Regions from separate parts of the Homo sapiens genome. Here region 1 is linked to region 2. Evidence: fine-mapped expression QTL. A gene starts in region 2. The other region holds a variant in brackets. All regions are shown on one strand. Distances are from middle to middle.

The links. PIP is the estimated chance that this variant, and not a neighbour inherited with it, causes the effect. A credible set is the group of variants that fine-mapping cannot tell apart.
Region 1: its variant is the best candidate, but not a certain one, in a credible set for the expression of RARG in whole blood (INTERVAL, PIP 0.89).

The regions. Positions count from the first base shown.
Region 1 is chr12:53,471,010-53,473,509 of GRCh38, forward strand. PCBP2 (poly(rC) binding protein 2) reads left to right here. Exons shown (of 15, transcript NM_031989.5): 14 at 629-798. Among named protein-coding and RNA genes, the nearest start is that of PCBP2-OT1, 7.8 kb to the left of the region's middle. The variant T/TG (reference allele first, on the strand shown) is at 995.
Region 2 is chr12:53,230,766-53,233,783 of GRCh38, forward strand. RARG (retinoic acid receptor gamma) reads right to left here and starts at 1,444. Exons shown (of 10, transcript NM_000966.6): 1 at 1,209-1,444; 2 at 404-470. RefSeq lists silencers at 1,130-1,259, 1,580-1,629.

The DNA of each region.
Region 1 (2,500 bases), 240 kb after region 2:
ATTATGTCTCTTGGACCTAAAAGACAGTTCTGAGTTGGCTCAGAACTGGCTGTCACTCACCATGGGTGGTCAGACTGAAAAATGGGTCAAGAGTTGAGTTTTTTGATCAAAAGTGTATGAGTAAAGGGTGTAGGATGAAATTGGGCATGGCGGTATACACCTGTAATCCCAGGTTACAGGGAGCACAGAGATACAGAGGCTGAGATTCGAAAATGGCTTAAACCAAGGAGTTTGAGACTAGCCTGAGCAACATAGCGAGACCCTCGGTTTTTTTTTTTTTTTTTAAAGGGCCAGGTTCGGTGGCTTATACCTGTAATCCCAGCACTTTGGGAGGCCAAGGTGGGTGGATCACAAGGTCAAGAGATTGAGACCATCCTGGCCAACATGGTGAAACCCCGTCTCTACTAAAAATACAAAAATTGGCTGGGCATGGTGGCATGCGCCTGTAGTCCTGCTGAGGCAGGTGAATTGCTCAAATCCAGGAGGCTGAGGTTGCACAGTGAGCCAAGATCAGGCCACTGCACTCCAGCCTGGCCACAGTCGTAGGATTTGGGGTGGGGGGGTGGGATTCTTAGACCTAGCCATGCAACTCTAATTCGGTGTGCCTTGTTTTTCTTTCTCCCTTAAGTTGATTGGCTGCATAATCGGGCGTCAAGGCGCCAAAATCAATGAGATCCGTCAGATGTCTGGGGCGCAGATCAAAATTGCGAACCCAGTGGAAGGATCTACTGATAGGCAGGTTACCATCACTGGATCTGCTGCCAGCATTAGCCTGGCTCAATATCTAATCAATGTCAGGTAAGATTGCTCTACCTTTTGTCTTATTTATGCCAACACAGTAATGTGTGTGTTGGGGAGAGCTGCAGTGTATTAAATATGGGATTACATGGGCGATGGGTAAAGATGGCCAAAAGGTTTTTTTTTTTTTTTGCTAGCTCTACTTTCTTAGAGTGTAGCAGAAAAAGTAAACTGCAGTAAGTTTTCAAGGGGTTGG[T/TG]GGGGGGGGGAGCACAGATTGCCCGCATTTAACTTGATGGTTTGGTAAGAGGGAAGAGTGGTCCTTGTCTTCAGTAAGAGTCCTCTGGCTAGAGCACTCACAAAATCAAATGTGGGTCTCTCTTGTTCTACATAGCATATAGACTACTATTTCTTTCACTGATTTGATTTGGAGTCCAAAGCACCCTTAATTGTAATAAGGACATTGGAGTAATAGGACAGCAAGGCAGTTTCTGGGAGGCAGCAATTACCATTTATTCTGGAAACACCCATTTTTCTCACACTGCATGTGTGTTTTATTCAGAGCTTGTGGGAATGTGGGAAGCACAGGTATTGGAATGTTTCGGAAGTGTGAAGTGTGTTTTCTATCTCACTCCTCCCCCAATCTCATCCCTTAATGACTTCCTGAGGGTTTTATTTCCCTTATCCATAGCTAGGTAGTGTTACTACTCTCAATTTTAGGACACTGTTCACAGTCAAATGGGATCCTACAGTCATTTATATTACTTGCTTTCTCAACTCATGGGCTGAAGTCACACCCTTAATTGCTTACTAATATTTCAAAGCATTGTTAGCCTTGAGGCCCTTAGGTCTCTTTTAATAGGGAATGTTGTCTAGTTATCATTTACCTTTCTTATAAGTGTTTAATCTCTTTGTCATAAAAGTTTTACATGAGTTCCTGAATCTAGTACAGGGGAAAGGAATTCCTAAGTATGTGGTCTGTATTGTGCTTGTACTGACCATGTATATATGCTATGGTTATTTAGTGCTAGCTAAGAACATACCATTTCCCCAGTAGCAGTCTGACTTTTGCCTTAAGACTTCATATCTTGAGGTGCTACTACTCTTTGTGTAGAAAAGCTTTCCCTTTCCTAGATTTGTTTTCTTGTCCACCCACCAAGCACACTAGGTCCTTAATGTTGAGAATGAAATGGTAGTAGTAAACTTTTGCACCAAGGTTGTTTGCAAAGAGGTCTTTTTCTTTTTTAGAGATAGGGTTTCATGTTGGTCAGGCTCGTCTCCAACTCCTGACCTCAAGTGATATGCCTCCCAAAGTGCTGGGATTACAAGAATTGTTTTTCTTTCTTTTTTTTTTTTTTGAGACGGAGTCTTGCTCTGTCACCAGGCTGGAGTGCAGTGGCTCCATCTCGGCTCACTGCAACCTCTGCCTCCTGGGCTCAAGTGATTCTCCTGCCTCAGCCTCCCAAGTAGCTGGGACTTACAGGCACGTGCCACCACGTCCAGCTAATTTTTGTATTTTTAGTATAGACGGGGTTTCACCATGTTGGCAAGGATGGCCTCGATCTTTTGACCTTGTCATCCACCTGCCTCGGCCTCCCAAAGTGCTGGGATTACAGGCGTGAGCCACTATGCCCAGCTTGTTTTTCTTATTTGTAATTAGGATTTTGGAGGGCAAGAAGTTTTCAGTTTTCAGTGGCAAGAATCAGGTTTTTGAAAGCTGGAATTTGTTTTGTTCTTTCGATAGGCTTGCCCTTCATGTAATTTA
Region 2 (3,018 bases):
CAGGGGTGGGGGTGTGCCGGGGTGTGGGGGGGCGTGCCCCATGCTGCCTACTAGGCTGTAGGCCACAGTGCGTGTGTGTGTGTGTGTGTGTGTGTGTGTGTGTGTGTGTGTGTGTGTATGTCTGTCTATATGGGATACCCAAGCTCCAGGCTCCCTGCACACACTACCCCCACTCCCCTGTCTTCTCTCTACTTGCCTCAAGGATATGAGATGCTGGCTATGGTCCTTGACCCCAACTCAGCATCTGACCCTAAGGGCAGAAGCCTCAGACTTGAGGATTGGGATTCCAGCTGCCCAGGACCAGAGCCCTAAAGCGGGACAGTCATCTCAGTTTCTTGCCCTGAAGACCTCCTACTCAGGCTCCCCTGCCCCCACCACCACTAACAACCAAGCATCTTCTTACCCGCTGGCCGCCTGCAGAGACTGGCTTCTACATACTGGGTCAGGTTGAGGGAACTGGGCCGTAGCTGCTAAAGACAGAGAGGCAGCGTCAGTGGAACTCTGGGACCAGCACTCCTGGGTCCCTGTCCCGGTCTTCCTGCTCTTTCTTTGTTCCATTTGGGCTTCCCTCAAGAATACTCCAGAGGTGCCCCCCACCTTGGCTGGAGGGAGCCAAGGCTCGCACCTGGGCTGGGAACGTGTGGGAGGGAATCCAGCGCTTCAAGGAAAGTTCACAGATCCCTATCCTATGCACCAGTCCTTCGGAACTCCTGGACGCGGAGGGCCAGGCTCACTTGCCTCTGGACGTTTTCCTTGCCTTCTGATGTCCAAGCTGTCCCATTCCACTGGGGAGGGAGGAACTTGGACCAGCATGGAACATCAAATCTACCCCTCAGAGCCCGGGGGTAAGGGGGTGGTAGTCTTTCCCCGCGAGAGGAAACCCTGTCTTCTCTCACATTCCCAGCACAAAAATATAAGGAGGAATGCCCCCTGGCTGAAGACTTCCCCAAATGCTGTCCTCTGCTATGCACCAAAATGAAGGGCAGATGACCCAGCCCATCCTCAGCCTGTTAAAATCTTCCCCATTCCCTTCCCACAGCAGGACTGGCCTGGGTCGGGGCAAGAAGCCCCCCTCAAGCCCGGCGGCCAGCCTGGCCAGCCTCGGGAGGGCATTCGCCCGTGCAGCTCCTCCGCGCCCCCTCCCCCAGCCGCCTCGCCGGAGGACCCAGGCGACGGGGCGGGCGAGCCTGCTTCCCCGCCTGACTCACCTGGAGTGGGAGGGGGAAGGGAGGCGGCGGAGCCCCGAGGTCCCGGCGTCGGGCAGTCTCTTGGATGGAGCGTCGCAATGTCCGGGGCTCGCCGTACTGGGGGGCTCCTGGGGGGGCACGGCTCTAGGCTGGGACTGTCCCGGGGCCTCTCGGAGCCCGCCCGCCCACGTGACCGCCCCAAAATATCCGACACATTTTCTCCCAAACCGCACACTGACTCTGCAGGCGGGGACACGGAAAATATTTTCTTTCTTTTTCTCCCTCCCCACCCCCCCCCCAACCTCCCTCCCTGCCCAACTCCCTCCTCCCCCTCCCGCCCTCGCTCCTCCCTCCCCTGCCTGCCCCTGCCCGGCTCCCTCCTCTGTGCCCTGGGGCTGGGGGGCGGAGGGATGGGTGGGCGGGAGGGGGACTGGGCGGGGCGGCCCGGGACGCCTGGGTCTCTGCCCTTCCCATTTGCTAGGCTTCCGTGACTCCATCCTCTGGGAGGCCGGGCACGGCTGGCAGAGGAGGTCAGTGTCCTGGCCCCGTGATGCCAACCTTTTCTCTCTGGCACTTTTCTCCTTTCTGCCTTTTGGGGGGACTAGTTGAGTTGTCTGTGGCCAGGCTGTGACTCTTGCGAGGCCAGTCTCTGGCGCCTCCCCAGGGTAGGCAATGGGGCGGTACCCACTCCCTCCCAGTGCTGGATTGGCCGGGCAGGAGTATGCCAGATCTAGAATAGATGCTCCTGCCCTTACTCTTTGCTCAGCCTTCACCTGCAGATCCAAGTAGCCTCTCCCTTCCCCTAGCCCACCTCAGTCCTTTGGTCCCAGGAGCAAACTGGTTGACTAGTGGCTGTTGCTGGGGGTGCTGAGGCCAGGGCTCACAGACATCTTCCCTGTCATCTTGCCTGGAGTAAGCTCCAGGAGTTAGGGCGCCTGGGTCCCTGGCTGCCAGTTGTCCCCCACCTTTAGGCCTGGATTTGGAAGGGGAGAGGCTGGAGAGGAGGGCAGGAGGAACTGTGGCTGGGAGTGGGAGGAGCCTTGGGCTGGGTGTGAGAGAGAAAGCCCAGGCAGAGGGTGTGTGTCTGCCCTAGCCAGCACCGGCCTGCCTGCCTGCCTGCCTGGTAGATGTGCCATGAATGCTGTTGACTCCGGGTGTGTGTGTGTGTGCGTGTGTGTGTGTGTGTGTCTGTGCAAGCGCGTGCGCATGCCAGTGCCGAGAGTGAGTGTCTGTGTCTGATGGGGGCATTATCTGCTTCAACATAGACAGACTCTCAACCCTAGAGTGAGAGAACCCAGTGGTTTCACTCTGCATTCTACTGAGGACAGAGGGAGAGAAAAGAATGGGTCTGCAGTCCAAGCTCTGTGCACGGATCCCAAACACTCCCATGGGGACTGGAGTTGGGAGGGAGAAAGAGGAGAAGGGGAGAGTCTGAGCTAGGCTGATAGGCTGGACAGACATACCCAAAGTACCTTCCCCAGCAATGCTCGCAGGGTGACCAGGACCTGGGACACAGACTCCTGGGTCACGTCACATTTTCCATACTGGAATTACTTGGCTTTGTCCTTGCTCCCCCCTGGGGGCCAGGTGTCCTCCCTCCTGGGAAAGGCTGCTTTTGGTAGCCAAAGTCAGGTGAAGGAGATGGGGGAAAGAAGAGGCATGCTGTGGTTACCTCAGGGAATGGGAGATGGCAATGGGGGTGCAGACAAGCCCTCTCTTTCACTCCAGGGATAGGAAGAGCTAGGAATAGATACTCCAGGGTCCCGTCCCCAGGTGGCCTAGCTGCTGTTGACTTTGCTTGGTTACCCTGGGAGCAGCTCTCAGCAGTGTG